2 linked regions of the Homo sapiens genome follow. The protein of the gene in region 2 interacts with the protein of the main gene of each other region in a pairwise test. Each region holds a gene or a part of one and is shown on either strand. Other genes may lie near its edges. The genes, in order: HOXA3 and SEC23B.

Region 1 (12,799 bases), on a different chromosome or scaffold from region 2:
CTCTGAATTCATAGTGGTCTCTCTGAGGATGCTACTGTGACCAGCCATGTCGGAACTCAACACATTTTTTGAAGAGTTAAAAATGGTCAGCCCTCTTGAATCTTTACACATTCTCCCAAATTATATGACCCTTCTGAGAAATGCAGAACTCCCCCAAGGATAAAGTGGATGTTAATGGAAAACATTATAATTTTAACAATCCGCATTAGGCTCTGTCCTAGGGAATTCCTAGGAGTCTTTGGGATTCCCTGTGGAGTCCTTGGAAACCAGAGGCTAAGAGATGGAGCTATAGGTAGTCTAGGATTTCTGGCAATGTAGGATTGTGTTGGGCTGTCTGATCTGGTGCCAAAGTTCCCCAAGGGTGGTGGGGGGTCCCTCCAAGACAGGTGTATGAAGCTCAGGCATGGGCTCAGAAGAGGGCAGAAGTTGGCTAAGAGTGGGCAGTTGAGTAGAAGCCGGGGGAGATGAGGGAGGAGAGAGAAAAAAATCCTGAGTCTGGGGCTGTGGCCCTCCAAGGCTTTGGGGAGACACTGGAAGAGGCCAAATGGCCACCTCTCTGTACGGGTTTCTGAAGGGCAGAAAGGAGAGGGGGTTGGGAAGCAAAGGGTATTTATCAGTGACGCAGTGCAAAAGGCCCTCTGGCTTGGGAAGCTGAGCAGGGTACTCAGGGTGCATGGACAGGCTGTCCCTCCCCACCAGCCTCTCTCTCTCTTCAGGCTGTCCCTGTCACAGGTCTCATATACGTGCCAGTGCCCCCATCCTCCCCTAAGGTGTCAGCTTACATGGACACTGGGGCCTTGCCCTTCCTCTGCCATGGCCTGATAGCCCCATTGGGAACTGATTTTTTCTTCTCTTTTAAGAAGCCAAAGAAACTTTGCTGGTTCTTTCATCCTTTCTTTCTCTCTATTCCTCTTTCTACTCTGTTTCCTCCTTCTTTCTTTCTTTTCCTGCCTCCTTTCCCCTCTCCCTCCACTGTCTTGGGATATGTCTTACCCGCGCAGGAGTTCATCCGCTGCATCCAAGGGTAAACCGGGCTCGTGTACTTCCGGTCGGCGCCTTCGTCATGGAGTGCTTTGCCCTGCCCGCTGCTGCTGTCGGGTTTGTACTGCTGCTCGGGAGAAAAGTGCAGGTAGTCCCCGGGGCCCCTCTGCTTGCCACTGCCCGAGGGCGAGGCGCCACTGAGGTCCTTATCAGAATAGAAACACGAGGCCCCGTACTCGTAGGACGCCCGGTTGCAGGCCAGGACCGAGTTGGACTGTTGGTAGAAACAAGGTGAGGTGTACGTCTTGTCCGGGAGACTCGACGCCCCGTACGAGGCCGGGAAGGGCCTCAGCGCGTCATAGCCAGCCTGGTAGAGGGGCAGCTGGCCCAAGAAGGAGTCCTGGCCGCTGGGAAGGCTCCCGGGGAAAGTGGGATTCACAAAATAGGAACTCATTTGCGCGCCCCTCTGCAGGACTGTGATTTGTTGTGTATTAGTACATCTGGCTATAACTATTAGTAGTCATCGAACTGGTTTGTTTCTGGATGGCCGAACGCCAAAAGCGACAGCAGCAAATCGCACCAGCTGACGCGGCGGCGGCCAATGGGAGCGAACGCCGGAGCCCGCTCCCCGGGGACCGCGGCGACCGAGGCAGCAAAGTTACAAACAGCCCCCAGCCCGCCCGCCCGCCGCCCGCCCGGCAGATTAATGGGCGCGCACAGCTAGCCGGCCCGGCTCTCTTCCCGAACGCCAGCGGCGGGCACGGCCCTTTCAGTGGCGAGCAGATCAGGCCAGAGTAGGGACACTAATGCTTGGGCCGCCTCAAAGGCCCCGCCAGGTCCCCTCCTTCCTCCTCCCCTTTTTGCTTTATTGAATTTTGCGGGTTCCCCGCCCCTCCTCCTCCAAACAGGAAACCTGAAGGTCCTGCTCCAGGAGGGGCAGTGACAAAGGTGGCTTTGCTCCCTGCCGGCCTGCACTCCAGGCACGGCCCAGAGTTGCCCCTCCCCTAGCGCTCCCCTATTCGTGGGTGCGAGTTCTTGAGCTGGAGCAAGGGCCATGAGAAACCAGGCCTTCACTCTATGCTCTTCACTCGTGCGCCTTAGGAATCGGTGAACTCCCTCATTCTCTCCTTCTCCGCTAGCACCAGGGGCCTGGGCCTTGCAGCCCAGAGCTGAAGGATCACCTCGAGCTGACCAGGACTCAGCCAAACGTAGGTTCTTCCCACCCATTCCCTCCTCCCACATACACATCCTGTTTGAGTCCCAAGGGGCTCAATGGCCCGCGCCTGCCTGGTGTCAAAGCACTCCTTCCAGCTGGGCGTCCCCATCCCACCTTTGAACCCAGGGAATTGAAAGGCCAGAAACCACTGGTTTCAACAAGAAAGGACCGACAGAGCAGTGGCCGTGAGACTGGGCTCCTAAGACAGCCGAGGGACCTGCTCCCCTGCCTAGCGCCTGGGGACTCAGCATCCACTGCGAGAACCGCTCAGAGCTGAGGCAGATAAAAATCCAGATGTGGAATCTCTCTGTCCACATTCCAGAGGCACAGAAGACGCAGAGGCCCTGGCCAAGCTGGGCACAGAGGGCAGCTCTGCAGGGCCCAAGGCCGCGGGATAATTGATGGGCTCGGTTTCCGGGGCGCCCGACAACCGGCACTGTCCTGGGGCCGCCCTCTTTACTGCCCTTCCTGGGACCGCAGGGAGGGCTGCCGCCCCTCAGTCGCTCCGGAACCGGGAATAGTCTCACCGGCTCCAGAAATCCTGAATTGCTTTCACTGCTGTCCCAGGCCTGGCGGTCCCCAGACAGGACATTAAAAGCCTGTCCTGAGCTGCTCACTCTTGCCTGAGAGGTGTGCCTTCGAGATAGTTGACTTTTACAACACATGGATCAATCTCGTTTTGTAAAATGTGATAGCAGCCCAATGGCATTTTTACAACTGTGTTTGTTGGGCTTGTAAAACCCCTTGAATTAGCTTTAAAATCCTCAATTCTGTGGAGGTTGAAGAAAGACTATTTACGTGATTTGGATGGATTTCTGGAGACTGTTTACAAGATCTGTAAAACCCTGGCCAATGCAGGCTCACCCGGTTCAGGACTTAGTGGGGAGGTGGCAATTGGCAGTGTTCCAGTAGGAATCTAGTAATGACTTAGTCTCTTCCTTGCTTTTCAATTTTTTTCCTGAACTCTCCTCCCACAAAGGGAAAAAATTGGGAAAGGACTGGCCTAAGGTCGACCTCCGAAGAGCCCAAGAGGCACTCCTGGAAGGCGGCTGCTAGCCCGGCAACGGGGGCTACCCCTGGAAGCCGGATGCCTGTTCCCCAGTCGATCCGTCCTGGAAAGGGTTTACTTTGCATATAAAGCAGGGCCTCGAATGAGAGGATAGAATTGGGCATTTCCCACACATTACTTCAGGGAAAGAATTCAATAGGTGAAAATGAAAACTCGAGTCAAAAAATTAAAAGGGACTTTTAAAAATAGCTGTTTGAAGAAAAACATGTTTGTGTTATTTTTTTCTTAAACAAAATTATCAGACAACAGTGATTTTAAGCAAGTTATTATTTAAAATGAAAACAACCGTTTGGAGATGACAATCAATGTTTACATTTATGATTTCCTTTTCATTCCGCCATGTCCCACATAGTGGTGGGTCAGTGTCAATTTACTATTATTATTATTTGTCATGCCTTGACCAGGATTCTCGATCTAATTATTGTTCCAGCTAACAAGAGAATTTGATTTCTCAGCTAAGAACCAGAAAACATTATATTTCTAGCTTCTATAGGCACTAAGATGGAAAAACATATATTACATTGGAATCTTTACATGTTAGCCAAGGCTAGTGCATATCATTTCTCCAACCAGATATTCTCTCTCTCTCTCTCTCTCTAGAGAGAGAGGGCTATTCCGGCAAGAATAGGCACCCCAGACCCTCCAAAGGGCCTCTCCTGCGATGGTGAGAATGGCCACCCCAGGGCTCTCTCTCCTCCCTGCCAAAGCCACGCAGAAAGCGACTTACCTTTCAGTTTCTCTCCAAGGGGGGCAGGACGGCGAGCTGGGCCCCACTGTCTGCCCTTGCCCTGGGCTGCCCATTGAACAGCTCCACCTCTGCCAGCCTGGAGGGTGGTCTGGGAGTATGTAGGTGTGGGACCTTGAAGGCCACCTCGGTCCAGCCAGCTCGCTAGCCCAGACCAGAGCCCAAAGCACACAGGTGCGGCCTCTGCCCTTCACAGCCCTCTCCTGGAGCCAAAGCCGTCCTTCTTTGCCATAGCCAATCCTCCTCAGAGCAGCCAGGCCTACAGGCCTCAGGACTACAGGTAGTCTCTCCGATTGCAGAATCCCAAAGCCAGAGTGTTCCCTGAACCAGCGTGCGCCCCCAGAACGCCTTGGGACGCGCAGTTTGGACAGAAGCAGCCATGACGTGCCAGGCGGCCTGTGCAACCAGTCTCCATGGTGCTGGAGTGGGGGTGGGGGAGGACCCGAGTCTATAACGGCGTCCAGCTCCGGTCAGGGGTAGCCGAGGCGGGGAGATTTCCCGGCCATATAGGCTCTGGGTGATCGCCCCCCAGGTCCCCTTGCGTCCCCCTCTACCCTGCTTGCTGGGAAATCTCTGAGGGGCCAGTACAGCAGTCGCGCCAGGCTGCAAGAGGCGGGCTGCAGCTGGCGCCGGTCCCGGCGACGGCCACGGCGTGGCAGCAGCGAGCGCCAGCACGGTCGCAATAAATAATCGGCCCGCGGCAGCCGCAGTCAGGAAGGCGGCGGACCTAGGATGCAAATGCGCCGCTTTATCCGCCCCGAGCGCACGCAGAGCACGGGCTAACGTCCTAAACATCCACAGCCCCTTCCTATTTATCGAATCCATACCAAGATATTGTCTCAAGTTGGGGAAACAACAACCCAAACAAAAAACAAACAAAAAGAACCTCGGACTCTTTTCTTGTCGCTGTCCGAGGAGTTCTCGGGGCAAATCTGGTCTGATGTGCACTTAGGCCGAGCTACAGTTCGAGCCACCGCGCTACGCAAAGCCACCGCCAGCAGCACGCTCTGCGCTTCCTCCCGGGCAGCTCCACCATCCTCTCCCCGCTCGCGGAAGGTGGGGAGTGCGGTCGCCAGTCCGTTGCGCCAAGGTGGATTGGGGGGTCCCCCTATCGCCCAGACTCGGTTTGCGTCCTTCCTTCAACCTTAGCTGCGGGACCCTGCCACGCGCGCTAACAGCATTATGTCCTCTGCACCGAAACTTCCCACCAAGTAACACCCAATTAATCCCATCCTCTCCTCCAACACAGAATTCCACCCACGCACCTATTCCCCCTCCCAGCGCTTCAGACACCTCTCTCATCGAAAAACCGGGCGAAGGGAAGCCGGCAACGAGCGGAGAACTCTGGCTGAATTAGTAAGTTTTTCTGTTTCCCCCTTCTACCTTTCTCTCTGAAACCAATTCCCACGGAGTAGAAAGTGCTGTGCTGATGCTAATAAAATGCCTGTGGATTAATGCACTTTGCCCTCACCTCTTCCCACCTTCCCAGGTCAAGGATGGTCTCCTCTTGTTGGGGAATCCAACAAAACCAAATAGGGCCATGAATGAAAACACAAAAATCCAAACCCAAAGGGCTGGCGGGGAACACAGTGTGCCGGGCCACTTCCTTTTGGGCTTCACGGGGTCGCTAGGGAAGGGGAGAGAGACGACCCAAGGGATGCTGCCCTGTGCCTTGGCGCTGTGCCACGGAGGGCCGAAGGAAGGCGGGCACTTACTGCCAAGGCGAGCCAGGGAGGGGAGAGAAAGGGAGTGGTGTGTGTGTGTGTGTGCGTGCGCGCGTGTGTGCCTGTGTGTGTGACGTGTGTGGGCTGTAGTGTGTGATGGGGGCAAGTGTGAATGGGTGAGTATGGGTAAGGGGGAGTATGCCCCTCTTAAAGCCTCCCTGGGTGCCCTCTCCCACCGCTACCGCCGCCGGCTGTCGCCTCACCACCTTTGCTCCTATCTCCTCCCCACATGTCTCACCTTCAGACGGTGGCTCCCAGAAGCTCCTGCCCCTCTGACAGCTGTCGCTTGGGCAGCCCGAGAGAAGAATTGTCCTCTTTCCTGGTGCCAGAGGACGCAGGAAATTAGCCAGGTTGCGAGTTGCAAAGCTGCTGCCGCGGCGCCGGGAACGGAGCGCGCCCAATCTCCAGCGGGAGCCGCCAGGCCTGGCCTGGCCGGGGCTTCCCTTCGCTCGCCATCTCCGGACAAAGCACAGCCGAGCCCGGCTGGAAGGCAGAGCTCCGAAGCAGGCAGGACGGAGCGGAGCAAAAGAATGCGGCTCTATTCTCGCAAGGGAAATTATAAAAAAGTTCATGTTCACGGTTCTCATCCACATGACCGACAGCGGCCAATGGAAGGGCCGAACAACTCATAAAGTTGTATTGCAAAGTTGTAAATTTTCATAAACAACAACGGATTTATGACCCTTTCCCCATCACTGAGAGGAGGCAGCTCTTACACCGGCGCCATCTTACCACCGAGGCCGCCCCGACTTGGGGCCTCAGGTTTTACAGACCCTTTTGGGCCAGGTTTTACTAAAAGAGCCATAAGAAGCGGGCCCAGCCCAGGCAGGAGACTGGAGACGAGGTCTTGCAGGCGGAACTCAGGATGCTCTGAGCTGCCCGCACAACCCCTGGACCTTCACCCCTCGCCCCTTCCCCGCATCCAGCTGCCCCAGCCCCTGCCCAGGCTGCGTAGCCTAGCGGGGGTCTGCGGTCCTAGCCCCTCCCCGCGCCACCTACTGCAGTGCCGGACCCTGGGGCCCCCTCGCCTGGTCTGCAGGCGGGGTGGGGACCTTAAATCCCATTTCCTAGCCTGGGGCTGGGTTCAGGGCGCATGCGAATCCGGAATCAGCTCTGGGTAATGCCCCTTTCCAAGCCCACTGCTCAGCCTTAGAGGAAAGTGTGGATTTGAAATTTCCTCATGGAATTGATGGAGGTTTTTAGGTAGATTCATAGAATATAACGTATCTACCAAAGATTCCGTTTTCAAGGGATCTAGAAGATGTTAGTGCACACGCAAAAACCAGACAAACGTCTCTACACGGATAAAGGCACATATACAATTATGCACACAGGGAAGGGCATACACTCTATTGTGGGCACAGAATGACATGCAATTATGGACACACAAAAACACATGCACCCAATTATGGACACCAAAATATATACAATTGTGGAATTAGGTAAAAACACACACACAGAAATACATACACAGAAAAATAAGCACATACTCATACAAATACACACATAAAAATACATTAAAAAGATACATGACACCAATACATGGGTACCCAACACTTGGACCATCACAAGGACAGCCACCCCACTTTTGCTTCCCCACTGCCCCCTGCCCTCCAGCCATACTCACCTCCCCTTTCCCAGTCCCCTCTGGATAAGGCAGTCCACATTTTTCTTTGTCACCACGCATCTTTATTTTCGGTTACATAAAACACAGCTGGGCTGGGAAGTGTGCCTTCCCTGAACCCCAGGATGGAGCTGAGCAGGGTACAGGACAACACAGGAGATGAAGGGCATTGCGGAGGGCATTGGACCTCCCCACCCACTACAGTTAACTCAAGACAACATACCATGCTACAAAGTCACCCCATTAACACATCCTTTCCAAGTCAAGACACTGCCTTACAAATGAACTCCAAGACTATAGAAATGATAAAAAAAAATCTTGTTCAAATATACAGTATCTGCTATTATAGGAAACATCAGGGCGTACATATTTAACACAGCTGAACAGTAAGATACAGGAGCCAGAGGAAAGGACAGCGAAGCTGGAAGCATCTCCACAGTCCTGCTAAGCAGAAGCTAACCCACAGATCTGCAGCCAGCTCAGGAACATTCCCCTCCAGAAGTGGGGGTTGATGGGCCTGAGCTGTGGGTGCCAAGCCAGAGAAGGAGGGATTGATTCTAGGGTGCAAGCACTTAGGATGCTTTTTGGAATAAATATATTATTTTTCGATTTAAATAGATGCCAATACCCTGATCCTGGACCTCAGCACATTCTCAGGGCAGCCTCAGGGACCCCAAAAGCTGCGGGCTGTAAGCAGCAGGGGACTTGCCTGGGAGCAGTCGGCACTAGGTAGCAGGCAAGCCAGCCAGCACAAAATAGGTAGTTTTAGGGGAGTAGGTAGTAGTGAGATTCACTTTCTTGCGGGTCTGGGAGGGTGGTGCTGGGTGTCTGCCAGTGTTGGGATACATAGGGACTTCCTGGGAATGGAGGCCCTCTGGGGCTGGATACATAGGTAGTTTGGGGGTGCCTCGAGCAGAGGCCTGTGCTAGGTAGTATTTTGGACGCGCCAGAGCAGGGCCGGCTGGCCTGGGGTTGGGGGTGTCTTTTGGGGTCCTCGGAGGCAGAGGGAATCCAAGGCGACCCAGTCTCTGCGGCCGCTCAGTCCACAAAAGTTGGGAGCTGGAGTAGGTGATGGGGGTGGGTAGAGTGCAGGTTGGGGACTGGGTTGCTTTTTTGTTTTTGTTTTTGTTTTTTACATTTTCTTTTATTTTTCCCATTTTTGTAAGTAAAACCAGTGAGTCTCTTAAAGACGCTTTTCCGACTGTCCGGTGCAGAGAGGGCCCCGGATCGGCCCCTCATTCCTCCTCGTCTTCCTCTTCTTCATCATCGTCCTCCTCGTCGGCCTTGTCCGCGGCAGCAGTGGCGGCGGCAGAGGGCACGGCGCCCTCGGGAGCTGCGGCGGCAGTCGGACCTTCGTCCTTATGCTCTTTCTTCCACTTCATGCGGCGGTTCTGGAACCAGATCTTAATCTGGCGCTCGGTGAGGCAGAGCGCGTGGGCGATTTCAATGCGGCGGCGCCGCGTCAGGTAGCGGTTGAAGTGGAACTCCTTCTCCAGCTCCAGCGTCTGGTAGCGCGTGTAGGTCTGGCGGCCCCGCTTCCTGTCAGGTCCTGAGAACAGACATGCAGACACATGAACACAAGGACAGACAAGTAGACAGGGCACTCGTTAGGCTGCTGTCCCAGAGCCCGCACCTTCCTCCTGGCCTAGTCCCCAGCGAGCATCCCCCTCTGCCCCAGGCCCCGAACTGAGCTAGGGGAGGAGGGGGAGTGTTAGGGAAAGACCCCAACTGCAGTGCCAGACGCGCAGGCAGCTCTGTAATGAGCAAAGGCACAGAATCTCAACTTTACAACCGACCTTTCCAGCCGGCTAAGCTTCCACAATGTCCTGCTTCCTCTGACAAAGGAAAACTGTAAATATAGAGTGTGAGCAAGTGGGAAACGCTGCACTTTTGCCATTCAAAGATGAGCCCGGCCATTCCCCTGCCTTGCTAGGCAAGTGGGCGACTCTTCCCAGCAGCCTGAGCCCTCATCCCCAGGACCTTCCTAGGGCACCCCGACCCTCTGTCCTCATTCCCTCGCCCCCATCTTGAAATGGACCCTGGCACAGGGTCGGGTGAGAGGCCCTGGAGGGCTTGGCTCTCCTAGCTTTTGAGAAAGAAATGTCAGGCAGCAAGGAAAATGAGGAGAGAGAGAAGAAGAAAGGGAGGGAGGGTGACAGAGGAGGGAGAAAGAGAGACAGAATAGCGAACAAACTTAATGTTAAAATTCCAAGACAAATGGAGTTAAATAAATTTACGAGGATCGAACCCATTAATTGGGCCATAAAAAGTTTTATGAGCCTCATTTACATACAATGCTATGGGCTCCACGCAATGGCGCCTCCGCTCCAATTAAAACCAGAAAGGCTGCGCCGGGAGTCACGGGGCTACCGGCTCGCAACAGCCTGGCTCCGCTCTTCCGGCCCCGCGCCCCGCGCTCCGCGCTCCCCAGCGCTGCGCTCCCCGCTCCCGGTCCCGCTCCGCCAGCCTGGCCCGCCTAGCGACTGCGCCTACCTGAAGACCGCATCCAGGGGTAGATGCGGAAATTGGCCTCAGCCGCGCCATGCAGCGCGCCCTCGTCCGTCTTGTCGCAGGCGCCTTTGGCGAGGTCACTGCAGAGCCCGGGGATGTTTTGGTCGTAGGAGGCGCAGGGCAGGTTGCCGTAGGCGTCGGCGCCCAGGCCGTAGCCGGACGCAAAGGGGCTCTGATAAAGGGGGCTGTTGACATTGTATAAGCCCGGAACGGTCGAGGCGAAGGCGCCGGCGCCCGCCCCGTAGCCGCTTCTCTGTGAGTTGGGAGCAAAGGAGCAAGAAGTCGGCTCGGCATTTTGGAACAGAGAAGCCCCCGCCGTATATTTGCTAAAAAGCGCGTTCACATAATACGAAGAACTCATAATTTTGACCTGTGATTTGTTGTCCGGCAGCTTTCAGTGTCGGTTTTACGAGGTAGAGTGATATATGATAACATTACACCCCCAGATTTACACCAAACCCCATTTTCTTTTGGACGGAGCTCGCCGCAGCACGTGACCGCCCACATGACCGCCTCCGCCAATCTCAGCAGTCCTCACAGGTGGTCTCGCTCCGCAGGGCCCGCAGCCGCCTAGAATGGAAGGGCAAGAGGCTCAAATATGCGGCCAAAGAATCCGCCCGCGCCCGGCGGGCCTGGCGCGTCCCGCGGAAAAAGACCTGGAGGCTCCGCGGGAGCGCCCAGCTGGCGGCCAACCTCCGCACTGGGGTCTGCGGACGCCAGGCGGCCCGGCCCCACGCAGCACCCCCCACCCCGCCCCCCCGCCGACTCCTGCTAGTGAGCCCTGGACCAAGCTTGGGATCCTCCCCATCCCTCTCCTGTCCGCCTGCCCAGACCCTGGAAGGGTCTCTGTCCCCCGCAACAGCCTGCCCCGCGGTGGCCTTGTGGGCAGGACTCAGCTATGAGCAGATCGACTCTGCCCAAGTCTTCTCTCACCCAGGTCCAGTGGGCGACAGGCCGGACTTAGACTCGGATCCAGACGGGGAAGGCGCAGCATCTCTTGCAGCTGCAGAGAGATTGCCACCGCAAACTGGAGCCATGTGGTTCGAATAAAGTCAACGTCTCCCAGCTTCCTTTCCTTAATCGGAGGCACACTGTTTATCCGCCCTAAAGGAAGCAGTGAAATATTTATCTATTAATGAGACTCATTTGCCAACAGATTTATTAACGTGGGGTTCCCCTCCCTCCTCCCGGACGCTGTAGTGCTGCAGGCTCTGTGCCTTCGCTCCTGGGCACCTGGCTGGCTCCAGCAGTCCGATAAATTGCTAAAGATTCCTTTGTCCTTTCCACAACTTCTGGTTCCCCTCTGGCGCATGGGGAGCCAGGGCTGTTTCCCCCAGCTTGGAAAAATCTCGGGCCTGCACCCTTCCAGGCACTCCCAATACTGGAAGGTTTCTGGGGTAGGCCGGGGTGCCTGGGAACAATACATGCTTTAGAGCGGATTTGGAGAGGGGGCTCTGGCGTCTAGGGACTGCAACCCACTGTGGACTTCCTTTTCTTTTGAAGACACCGAAAACAAATAGGGGAAACCACCCCCTAAAGGCCACCCAGCTGTGGAGGCTTCACCTATCCAAGTACCAGCTCACATGGAGCTGAGCGCACAGTGGTCTCACTTCCTCCCATCCAGGCCTCCAATTCCTACCTTCCAGGCCTCCGACCCCTGCACCATGTTGCACCAGCTGAAGCCCCTGCCGCCCACCGCTCGGTGGAGGATGGTGGGGAGAACCCTTCCCCTAAACGCCTCATAAACTGCCCGGCTGCGCTGGAAGCCCGGCCACCTTTTACTGCTCAGCTCGATTACACACCATAAACCCGACCTCACAATGGAATTGCCCCGGAAATTCTCCTGTAAATTGTAGAGTTTAGTTCCTTGTGTACTGAGCACTTCCCATCACTTTCAGAGGGTCCAGGCCGTCCCCGTTTACCGCACCCTCTCAGGGGGCCCCAGGAATACAAAAGGTGGAGGGAGGGTTCAGATCGGGACGCCACGGAGCCCCAGTTCCTGCGCAGTGAACCACCGGGGCTTGGGTAGGAAGGCGGGGGCTGGTGGGGCAGGTGGGCGCTGGGCTGTCTCCTCCCGGGCCACGGAAGCCTGGGGGTAGGGGTGTGGAGTGAGGGACAACATCCGGGGACGCCTTTATGGCGGATCAGATGATACCTTGTCTCCGATGGAGAATAGAGGGAGTAAGACAAAAAGAAAAGACCTAAATAATCCCAGTCGCATCGCCTTCTGGAAGGAAATAAAAACCCAAGAAAGTTAAAGGAAGATGAAGCAAACAAGAAGGCTAGGAGATCAAAGAGGCAGAATTAGACCGTTTTAGACCAATAAATTTTTCCTGGGGTGACACACAGCAAGACGCAAAGAGAAAAGACCAAGGCCCCCGCCGCCGCCGTCTGTCTAGACTCAAGCGACTGAAGGGGCCAACAGAGCTGGTGTTTAAAGTAGAACCTGCCCAGTCCAACAGCCCGAGCAGGGAGCGATTTCGGGGATCGCGGGAAGGAACGCACTTCGCCAAGGGAGGGCCGGGTGCCCTCGCCACCGGCTCATTCCTGCTCCGGTTTTGCCCGATGCGCGTCCAGGAGGTTCTGGCAGGACGCACTGCCCCTCTGCCCCGGCCAAGGAGGATGCGGATACTGCCCGCAAGGCTTCGGCCTTTATGGACCCAAGTCAGCCAACTGGGCCGAGTCCTGCGGACACCGAAACCTCCCTTTCGTTTCCAGGCTTCCTTCTCCCCTCTTGCCCTCTGTGGTCTGATTTAAAACGAAAAGGTCGGATAAAATCAGGCTTTCAATAAGGCTTCTTTAACTGTGTGTTCTCTATTCATTGGTTCTCTACTTATTTGACTGAAAAGACACAAATGCACTAGGTTATGTGAGATAATTTTCACAGAAATACTCATTGACCCTCAGCCTGAAGCAGGCACATGTAGGC
Region 2 (11,897 bases):
CCGCAGCCCGGGATTCTTCCTAAGCCGTGTCCCATCTGTGCGGGACCCCACTGAAAATCGGACTGTTCAACTCACCAAGCAGCCACTCCCAGAGCCCCTGGAACTCTGGCCCAAGGCTCTCTGACTCCTTCCCAGATCTTCTCAGCTTAGTGGCTGAAGACGGACGCTGCCTGATCGCCTCAGAAGCCACCTAGACCATCACGGACGCCGAGCTTTGGGTAACTCTTACAGTGGAGAGTAAGTCCGTCGCCTTCTTAATCAGTACAGAGGCTACCCACTCCACATTACCTTCTTTTCAAGGGCCTGTTTCCCTTGCCTCCATAACCGTTGTGGGTATTGACGGCCAGGCTGCTAAACCTCTTAAAACTCCCCAACTCTGGTGCCAACTTGGACAACATTCTTTAATGCACTCCTTTTTAGTTATCCTCACCTGCCCGGCTCCCTTATTAGGTCGAGACATTTTAACTAAATTATCTGCTTCCCTGACTATTCCCAGGCTACAGCCACACCTCACTCCCGCTCTTTTCCCCAGTTCAAAGCCTCCTTCGCATCCTCCTCTTGTACCCCCCAACCTTAACCCACAAGTATGGGATACCTCCACTCTCTCTGGCAACCGATCACACGCCCATTACTATCCCATTAAAACCTAATCACTCTTACCCCGCTCAATGCCAATATCCCATCCCACGGCATGCTTTAAATGGATTAAAGCCTGTTATCACTCGCTTGTTATAGCATGGCCTTTTAAAGCCTATAAACTCTCCTTACAATCCCATTTTACTTGTCCAAAAACTGGACAAGCCTTATAGGTTAGTTCAGGATCTGTGCCTTATCAACCAAATTGTTTTGCCTATCCACCCCTTGGTGCCAAACCCATATACTCTCCTATCCTCAATACCTCCCTCCACAACTCATTATTCTGTTCTGGATCTCAAACATGCTTTCTTTACTATTCCTTTGCACCCTTCATCCCAGCCTCTCTTTGCTTTCACTTGGACTGACCCTGACACCCATCAGGCTCAGCAAATTACCTGGGCTCTACTGCCGCAAGGCTTCGCGGACAGCCCCCATTACTTCAGTCAAGCTCAAATTTCTTCCTCATCTATTACCTATCTCGGCATAATTCTTCATGAAAACACCCGTGCTCTCCCTGCTGACCATGTCTGACTAATCTCCCAAACCCCAATCTCTTCTACAAAACAACAACTCCTTTCCTTCCTAGGCATGGTTAGGTACTTCTGCCTTTGGATACCTAGTTTTACCATCCTGACTAAACCATTATATTAATTCACAAAAGCAAACCTAGCTGACCCCACAGATCCTAAATCCTTTCCCCACTCCTCTTTCCGTTCCTTGAAGTCAGCTTTAGAGACTGCCCCCACACTAGTCTCCCTAACTCATCCCAACCCTTTTCATTACACACAGCCTAAGTGCAGAGCTGTACAGTCGGAATTCTTACACAAGGAACGGGACCGCGCACTGTAGCCTTTTTGTCCAAACAACTTGACCTTACTGTTTTAGGCTGGCCATCATGTCTCCGTGCGGCAGCTGCTGCCGCCCTAATACTTTTAGAGACCCTCAAAATCACAAACTATGCTCAACTCACTCTCTACAGTTCTCATAACTTTGAAAATCTATTTTCTTCCTCACACCTGACACATATACTTTCTGCTCCCCGGCTCCTTCAGCTGTACTCACTCTTTGTTGAGTCTCCCACAGTTACCATTGTTCCTGGCCCGCACTTCAATCCGGCCTCCCACATTATTCCTGATACCACACCTGACCCACATGACTGTATCTCTCTGATCCACCTGACATTCACTCCATTTCCTCATATTTCCTTCTTTCCTATTCCTCACCCTGATCACACCTGGTTTATTGATGGCAGTTCCACCAGGCCTAATCGCCACACACCAGCAAAGGCAGGCTATGCCATAGTATCTTCCACATCTATCATTGAGGCTACCACTCTGCCCGGCTCCACTACCTCTCAGCAAGCTGAACTCATTGCCTTAACTTGAGCCCTCACTCTTGCAAAGGAATTACGTGTCAATAATTATACTGACTCTAAATATGCCTTCCATATCCTGCACCACCATGCTGTTATATAGGCAGAAAATCACTACACAAGGGTCCTCCATCATTAATGTCTCTTTAATAAAAACTCTTCTAAAGGCTGCTTTACTTCCAAAGGAAGCAGGAGTCATACACTGCAAGGGCCACCAAAAGGCATCAGATCCCATCACCCAGGGCAACGCTTCTGCTGATAAGGTAGCTAAAGAAGCAGCTAGCATTCCAACTTCTGTCCCTCATGGCCAGTTTTTCTCCTTCTCATTGGTCACTCCTGTTTACTCTCCCACTGAAGTTTCCACCTATCAATCCCTCTCCACTCAAGGCAGATGGTTCTTAGACAAAAAAAAAAAAAAAAAAAAAAACCTCCTTCCAGCCTCACAGGCCCATTCTATTCTGTTGTCATTTCATAATCTCTTCCATGTAGGTTACAAGCCATTAGCCTGCCTCTTAAAACCTCTCATTTCCTTTCCATCGTGGAAATCTATCCTCAAGGAAATCACTTCTCAGTGTTCCATCTGCTATTCTACTACTCCTCAGGGATTGTTGAGGCCCCCTCCCTTCCTTACACATCAAGCTCAGGGATTTGCCCCTGCTCGGGACTGGCAAATTGACTTTACTCACATGCCCTGAGTCAGGAAACTAAAATACCTCTTGGTCTAGGTAGACACTTTCACTGGATGGGTAGAGGCCTTTCCCACAGGGTCTGAGAAGGCCACTGCAGTCATTTTTTCCCTTTTGTCAGACATAATTCCTTGGTTTGGCCTTCCCACCTCTATACAGTCCGATAACGGACCAGCCTTTATTAGTCAAATCACCCAAACAGTTTTTCAGGCTCTTGGTATTCAGTGAAAACTTCATACCCCTTACCATCCTCAATCTTCAGGAACGGTAGGACAAACTAATGGTCTTTTAAAAACACACCTCACCAAGCTCAGCCTCCAACTTAACAAAAAGGACTCTGTCAAGAATAGAGCCCAAAAACTCACCAACCAAACAAGTAATTACACTGAACTCCCTTGGACACTCTCTAATTGGATGTCCTGGGTCCTCCCAATTCTTAGTCCTCTAATACCTGTTTTTCTCCTTCTCTTATTTGGACCTTGTGTCTTTCATTTAGTTTCTCAATTCATAGAAAACCACATCCAGGCCATCACCAATAATTCTATACGACAAATGCTCCTTCTAACAACCCCACAACATCACCCCTTACGCCAAAATCTTTCTTCAGTTGAATCTCTCCCACTGTAGGTTCCCACGCTGCCCCTAATCCCGCTAGAAGCAGTCCTGAGAAACATCGCCCATTAATCTCTCCATATCACCCCCAAAATTTTTTCACTGCTCCAACACTTCACTATTTTGTTTTGCTTTTCTTATTAATATAACAACACAGGAATGTCAGGCCTCTGAACCCAAGCCAAGCCATCATATCCCCTATGACCTGCACGTATACATCCAGATGGCCTGAAGCAACTGAAAATTCACAAAAGAAGTGAAAATAGCCTTAACTGATGACATTCCACCTGTGATTTGTTTCTGCCCCACCCTAACTGATCAATGTACTTTGTAATCTCCCCCACCCTTAAGAAGGGTCTTTGTAATTCTCCCCACCCTTGAGAACGTACTTTGTGAGATCCACCTCCTGCCCACAAAACATTGCTCGTAACTCCACTGCCTATCCCAAAACCTATAAGAACTAATGATAATCCACCACCCTTTGCTGACTCCTTTTTCGGACTCAGCCTGCCTGCACCCAGGTGAAATCAAGAGCCTTGTTGCTCACACAAAGCCTGTTTGGTGGTCTCTTCACACGGACACATGAGATAATTATTTCCGATAAAAATGGAATAAAACTAGAAATCAATAACAGAAGAAAGCAAAAATATCAACATATATATGGAAATTAAACTCACTTTTGAGCATGCTCATGTTCAAGGGTTGTAAGACTTAATATTGTGAAGATGTTCATGCTGCCTAGTGAACTACAGATTCAATGCAATCCCTTTTCAATTAACAATTTTTTTTTTTTAGAAATAGAAAAAGTAACCAACAAATTATACGGAATCTCAAAGGACAATAAAGAGCCTAAAAATGTGGCCGGGTGCGGTGGCTCACGCCTGTAATCCCAGCACTTTCGGAAGCCGAGGTGGGTGGATCACAAGGTCAGGAGAACGAGACCATCCTGGCTAACATGGTGAAACCCCGTCTCTACTAAAAATATTAAAAAAATTAGCCGGGCGTGGTGGCAGGCGCCTGTAATCCCAGCTACTCGGGAGGCTGAGGTAGGAGAATGGCGTGAACCCGAGAGGCAGAGCTTGCAGTGAGCCGAGATCGTGCCACTGCACTCCAGCCTGGGCAACAGAGCAAGACTCCATCTCAGAAGAAAAAAAAAAAAAGAAAAAGAAAAAAAAAAGAGCCCAAAAATGTTTAAAAAAAAGAAACAATGTCACCTTTTCTAATTTCAAAGCACATTACAAAGCTACAGTAATAAAAACAGTTTAGTTCTGGCATAAAGACAGACAAGTTTTCCAATAAAACACAATGTAGCAGAAATGCAAACCTCCAACATATGGGTAAACAGTTATTTGAACAGCTATATTCATTGAAGCATTATTCACAAAGGCCAATATTTGAAAGCAAAACAAACTTTCCTCACTGAATAAATGAATAAATACAATTTGTAAAAAAAAAAAAAAAAAGAATTACTGTGGCTGCTGGGTGAAGAATAATGTATAAATAGGCAATGGTAACATCAGGGAGAACAATTAGAAGATTCAAGTAAGAAGGAGTGGCTGGCCCAGGGCAGCTGGTAGTAGGGAGGGGGAAGTGGGTGGATTCTGGATAAATTTCAAATATAGAGCCAATGGGATTTTCCAGTGAATTAGATATGGAACATGAAAGAGAGAGGTCAAGGATAAGTCTAAGGTTCTGAAGCTAAACAACTAGATGATGGAGTACCATCAACTGAGATGAAGAAGGCTACAGAGAACAGGTTTGGAATTTAATCAGTTCTACCTTTTTAGTAGCCTTCTATAATGTCAGGACTTGAAAACAATGCCAGTAGATGCACACACATCAAACCTAAAGGTTAGGATCCTGCTGCCCTCACAGCTTTAAGTCCCCTGCCCAGGTAAGAGACATGGAAGACAAAGGATTTCAAGAGAAATTCAGTATTTAACATTGCTCATTAAATGCACAACAAAGAAATTACCTGTATCACGTACTCAATTGTAGAAAACTGGGGCATCAATTCGGCAGGTTGATTCACCTCAGATATGCCTCCATAAGCTGGAGGAAACTGAAAAGAAGGAAACAGTTTTATTAGGGTTGGCATAACTATATTACACTTTTTATTTTCCATGTGTAAAAATGATAATGATGCCAAGACGAGAGGAACACTTGAGCTCAGGAGCTCCAGACTAGCTTGGGCAACACTGTGAGACCCTGTCTGTATACAAGAAGTAAAAACATTAGTTGGGCGTGGTGGCTCACACCTGTAGTCCCAGCTACTCAGAAGGCTGAGGTGGGAGGATCACTTGAACCCAGGAGGTTAAGGCTGCAGTGAGCCATGATTGCGCCACTGCACTCCAGCCTGGGAAACAGAGCAAGACTCTGTCTCAAAAAAGAAGAAAAAAAATGGTAATGACCATGTATTTATTCTGAAAGCACAAAATACAGGACACGTTAAAAAACATAAAAATCAGCATTTAAAACTTCTAACCCTGCCTTATATTTATATCATTTCTGTCCTCTTAAAAAATATTTTTTAGAGCAGTTTTAAGCTATTGTAACTTCTAAATGTTTAAAAGCACACTTTATGTTGCCCAGGCTGGTCTTGAACTCCTGGTTTCAAGTGATTTTCTCCCCTCAGTCTCCCAAAGTGCTGGGATTACAGGCATAAGCCACCATGCCTAGCCAAAAACACACAAATGAAAACCATTTCTTAAGTTTTGCCCTGCAAATTAAAGGCTGAGATTTCACCTATCTCATCAATAGTTAATAGTCTAAATAAAGCCAAAGACTTTATTTAGGTTTATTATTTTGGCTATTATCAATAAAGTAATACATACGGAATGTAGAAAAATTGGCAAGTCCAGGAAAATAGAAGCAAACAAAGGAGGAAAAGCCCCCCAAAATCCTATCACCTAGAAGCAGCTACTGTCAACCTCCTGGCAGATTTCCTTCCAGACTTAAGCACAGTTGAGAACATCCCATATATACAATGTGGAACTTGTTTTTTCCAGTCAACATAATGCCACAGGCATTTTCTTTTGTTTTTAAAACTCTCTGCAAATGTTTTAAATTCACAGCTTGTGGGTTGGCTTATAATCCAAATAGTCTTTAGCTTTACATTAAAAATACAAGTTGAGGTGCATCTCCCCAAAGTGAGCAGATGATCACTCCAGGCCAGTGACCTCAGAGTGACCAAATGCAAGTGCTGCTGAGGAGCTGACAGGCAGCTTTAGGGGCCTCTGGTTGGGAGAGAAGGGTACAACTGAGCTTGCGAGCCCCAGCAAGAATCTCAGTCAGAGCCAGCAGAAGACTCTAGCCCCATCCTGGCCATGACTGCCCACTGACTGCAGCTCCCAGCAGGGATAAGCTCGATCTATGACTACAGACACACCAGCCACCTCCCAGCAACCTGGAGAGGCCCTGTTCACCCACGCAGTCAGCCAGCTGCACAGAAGGGAGCAAAGGAGACGGAGATCACCCTGATCCCTCCGTCTTCCAGCTCTACATTCATTTAGAGCTAGAAAACCCCCACACTGTCCAGCTAGGAAGGTTACAAAAGATTATTTCCACTTAGGACACATAGACTTGCAGATCATACTTATAAATTGGCAGGTGACAATCTTAGGTAAGCATAATAATACCAAATACTTATATGGCACTTACCATGTGTCAAGCACTGTTCTAAGTCCTTTATACTCATTAACTCAGTTTAATTCTCACAATAATCTCATGAAGTGACTATAGGTATACTATACTATCATCCTAATTTTAAAGACAAGGAAGTTGAGGCACAGGCAGTTAAGTGACCTACCCAAAGTTACACAGGAAATAAGTGGTAGATCTGAGAGCCAAACCCAGGCAGTCTGGCTACAGATCTCTGGCTCTTTAGCCACTATGCTACCCTGCCTTAGAATTACTATAATAAATTATATTAAACAAAGACATTAATCCTAAATGTAATAGGGAGCAGAAATGCTTTTAAGATTTCTATATACTTCTGAATCTCTCATGAAGATATATTTTAAATGACATCTGCTTATAGTTTCCGAACCTATGGTCAGTCATCAATTGTACACTGTCCTCTTCATCACTAGACTTATATGCTGTATCTGAGAATGAGTAATTGTAATTATGATCAAATATATGAACGAATGCATGTGAAGAGCTTAAGATCTGTTAGAACAGTGTACACTATGCTGGACACAAATTTTTTCTAACAACTTTATTGAGGTATAGTTTACGCAACATAAAATTCACTCATTTTAATTATACAAGTCAATGATTTTTAGAAAACGTACAGTTGTGCAATAATTACCACAATCCACTTTTAGAACATTTCCACTACAGGCACAGTTACTTTTTTTTTTTTTTTGACACTCTTGCTGTGTTGCCAGGCTGAAGTGCAGTGGCGCAATCTCAGCTCACTGCAACCTCCACCTCCCGGGTTCAAGCGATTCTCCTGCTTCAGCCTCCTGAGTAGCTGGGACTACAAGTGCGCACCACCATGTCCAGCTAATTTTTTATTTTATTTTGAGACGGAGTCTTGCTCTGTTGCCAGGCTGGAGTGCAATGGCTCAATCTCGGCTCACTGCAACCTCCGCCTCCCGGGTTCAAGCGATTCACCTGCCTCAGCCTCCTGAGTAGCTAAGACTACAGGTGGCTGCCACCACTCCTGGCTAATTTTTGTATTTTTAGTAGAGAGGGGATTTCACCATGTTGGCCAGGATGGTCTTGATCTCTTGACCTCATGATCTGCCCGCCTCAGCCTCCCAAAGTGCTGAGATTATAGGCGTAAGTCACCGCGCCCGGCCTAATTTTTGTATTTTTAGTAGAGATGGGGTTTCACCATGTTGGCCAGAATGGTCTCGATTTCTTGACCTCATGATCCACCCACCTCGGCCTCCCAAAATGCTGGGATTACAGGCATGAGCCACTAGGCCTGGCCGCACAGTTACTTTTATAGAGAAGTCTCTCTTGTGATTTGTGAGCTCCTTCTAGTTTGGTACTTTTAAAATTTTTAAATCAAAAGAAGCTCAACACTGATACCTGGACTCTAAAAGTTAGAAAGATCAGAAAATGAAAATTCAGTAATATACACTATCCAATCAGAATATACTGAAGTCAAGAGAAATATGAAAAACAGGTGCTTTCTTTGGGTCACAGATTCACTGCCTACAGAAAATGTGTAAGAAAAGGGAATTCAATGAACACCCCCTCCCCAGCCCCAAGCAAATGACAAGGACTCAAGAAAACCACTCAACAGAATAAACCACAAATGTTCAAATTCAATATTGTGCTTAACAAAAGTTATCACCCTGAGTTCAGCAGAAACTGCTCACTGCCAGTGTAAACACAAATTCAACCTAACTTAATTTTTTTCATAATACAACTAAAATAAAACATATAACATTTTTTAAAAATAATTCACATACCTGATTTCTTTGAAAACAGAAATTACAGGCCCAAAGTTTTGCTCGATAATCAACCTGACTGTGAGAAAGATAAATATTATAAGTAGGTACCACTTTTATTTTTAAAATAAAATTTTTATTTTTAAGGTAGAAAGCGTTCATTTGTAAATTTCAAGTTCAGTAAATCACACAAGTAAGTGTTTCTATGTGTATGCATAAGTATGAGTATGCAAAACGTTCACCGCAGTTAGAATTCTGGCTAAGTACACCACAATTTCCATCAAACAGCCACAGTGAAGAAATACTAAATCTTTTTCTCTTTTCCAATTTCCTAATTTTTTAAATGTCATGATTTATATAAATTATACATTATTTCTCTCTTGCCTTTTATCTTAACATACTCTTCATGATTTTTTTCTAACATCTTTATTGTCCGGCTATGTGAAACTACTAAATTCCAACATTAAAAGCATATTTCACACACAGGAAAATGCTTCTAGATTTTTAACCTGACTTAGCCCATTTTAAGAAAAGTTGGGCAAGCACATTTCACTTCCTCAAATTGGTTCAAGATAATGCTTCAGTTACTTTTCCCTTATTTTCTACATTTAGAAAATTAATAACCAGTGGCTATGCATTCACATATGGGCACATTAAATAAAAGCAATGAGAATGAAGTAAAAAATGTTCCCTCATATAAAAATTTTATGACACTCTCTACCTGTTTAAAAATCATTTCAAATAATGCCCACATTTAAAAGAAATAGGTCACTATCTCAGGCACAAAAAAAAAAAAAATTACACTTAACAAATTGTTAACAGTTAAAATTTCTTCTGCCTGCTACTTCTCCTTGCCATATAGCATCACTGTACCCGGGAAGCATGAGAAGACGGTCTAAGCTTTCGAATTCTTCTGGGAAATTACTTTAAGAGGAATCAATAAAGTCTACAGTTAAGCCAAAAGCAAACTGATTATCAGCCAAAAAAAAAGTGAATTACAAATCCTCTCCCTCTACCTCTACCTCATTCCTGTAAGATTCCAATTTTATCTGGAATTATCAGGCCAGGGAGATTTCTACAAATATTCACCACTTACTACTCACCACAAGAATCGTTTAGGAGTCTCATCATCTACTACTTATCACAAATTTGATGACCTGCCCAAATTTAATGACTTTTATGAGCATCACATAAAATTCATAATATATTGTATTTATCATTTTTACCAGTTTCAAAAGAATCCATACCAAAGTGGGTTGAGAACAGCTTTACAAGTTGGCCTGCTGCAAAGCACAGGTTCATATTGTACAGGAGGTAGGTCTGGACGTTCTTTCAAAGGAGTAAGGAGACAAGCCAGGGGTACAACCATTCTTGTAGCCTCCAGCCGGCTGGAAGGCCACACGTTCCAACTAAAACGCACACCATCCCGTTCTTCATTCTGCTGGATGAACTCCAGGTATGTCGCCATAGTCTAAAAGGGAACTGAAGATAAAACTTTAATTACCTTAATGGTATGTGAAATTCTGAACTAAATGTCAAAAAAAGAAGATGGGTCATGTAACACAGTGTTTCTCTTTTTTTCCCATCTCAGCTCACTGCAGCCTCCACCTCCCGGGTTCAAGCGATTCTCCTGCCACAGCCTCCCAAGTAGCTGGGATTACAAGCCTGTGCCACCAAGCCCGGCTAATTTTTTGTATTTTTAGTAGAGGCAGGGTTTCACCATGTTGGCCAGGCTGGTCTCAAACTCCTGACCTCAGGTGATCCACCCGCCTTGGCCTTCCAAAGTGCTGGGATTACAGGCGTGACCCACTGTACCCGGCCCAACTAACACAGTGTTTCTTAAATACTTGGGAAGAACCTGTTGCTGTAGAATGACAGTATTTCTTTTCCATCTGATACCCAAAAGTCAGTTAACCGCACAGTTATCATTGATCACTGCTCCTTTCTCACCTCTCCTTTCAAGCACTTAAAAATAAATCAAAGGAGTGGGAGGTTTACAATCACCTGATCATCTCCAAACTACATGTAGTTAAACACTACTACTTCAAACCTCCTCACAGATCACACGTCCTATCAGTCAAGCCAATTTCAGCCCCTTGCTCAAGGGTAAGTCTTGAACCCTGTTTCGGCATCCAACTATCTTCCTCTCTAATCTCCTTCCTTTCTTCCTCTATTAAATTTTACATTCCAAGTGATTTTTTTTTCAGTAGCGGGGGGGTGCTCATTCCCTTCCGCACTTTGTTAACTTTGGAGAAAAGAGCTGGATACTGATCTTCAAGTTTGGTTCATAATGGGAACCAGTTTTGAGCTAAATTATTTCTACTTGGTATTACCAAAATTACTATTATGCTGAGTCTCACCAGAACCTCTTTCCTCACCACGGTTGCTTATGTTCATGCCTTGACAGGCTGTGGTCAAGGCCAGGTGTGGTGGCTCACACCTATACTCGCAGCACTTTGGGAGGCTGAGATGGGCGGATCACGAGGTCAGGAGTTCAAGACCAGCCTGGCCAACACAGTGAAACTCCGTCTCTACTAAAAATACAAAAATTAGCCAGGTGTGGTGGCACGTGCCCATAGTCCCAGCTACTCAGGAGGTTGAGGCAGGAGAATCGTCTGAACTCGGGAGGCAGAGATTGCAGTGAGGCGAGACAATGCCATTGCACAGCCTGGGCGACAGAGCCAGACTCTGTTTCAAAAAAAAAATGAAGACTGTGGTCAGTAAAACTGTCCTACAGGCTAAACTCTCAAACCCAGATGATCCCAACTTCATTGAGTATTTATACATCCTGTTCATATCCTAAAATCTAGGGTAACACACAACTCAGCTATTGGGGTTCAAGGGAACAAGCCCCTCAAGAAAAGTAGTAAAAAGGCAAATTAAAGAGTCTATCAAATTAAAGTGGCCTCTCGCGCCCACTTCCTGAATATGGATAACAACTGTCTGTTATTTTGGGAAGTACCATACTGTAAATAATTTTGATTAAGGCAATAATATTGCATGGCTAGAAAAGCAAATGAATTACTCTACTACATAAAGCCCAGAACACAAGAATTCCAATGTTTGCTCCAACTGAAACTCTAAGAAATCTGTTTATTTCTGGCAACGGCAAGAACCTGAAGCACTGTGTGCACAGGAAGCACTCTGGAGCTTCATGGGAAGCAAAGGGATAACTAAAGTCGG

What was found.
Region 1: the proteins of SEC23B (region 2) and HOXA3 interact in binary tests that used the Homo sapiens proteins (3 or more experiments, as listed by UniProt).

The regions. Positions count from the first base shown.
Region 1 is NC_000007.14:27,146,315-27,159,113, forward strand, and holds the start of HOXA3 (homeobox protein Hox-A3), read right to left. Parts: upstream 6,270-12,799; 5' UTR 5,974-6,269; intron 5,368-5,973; exon of another isoform or gene 5,261-5,367; intron 4,637-5,260; exon of another isoform or gene 3,994-4,636; intron 1,461-3,993; exon of another isoform or gene 1,436-1,460; coding exon of another isoform or gene 994-1,435; exon of another isoform or gene 849-993; intron 1-848. Other genes in the region: HOXA6 (homeobox protein Hox-A6), read right to left, coding at 994-1,435; HOXA7 (homeobox protein Hox-A7), read right to left, coding at 8,595-8,908, 9,853-10,231. UniProt on the Homo sapiens protein: Sequence-specific transcription factor which is part of a developmental regulatory system that provides cells with specific positional identities on the anterior-posterior axis.
Region 2 is NC_000020.11:18,509,121-18,521,017, reverse strand, and holds part of SEC23B (protein transport protein Sec23B), read right to left. Parts: intron 10,197-11,897; 5' UTR 10,183-10,196; coding exon 9,962-10,182; intron 8,794-9,961; coding exon 8,736-8,793; intron 5,369-8,735; coding exon 5,282-5,368; intron 1-5,281. UniProt on the Homo sapiens protein: Component of the coat protein complex II (COPII) which promotes the formation of transport vesicles from the endoplasmic reticulum (ER).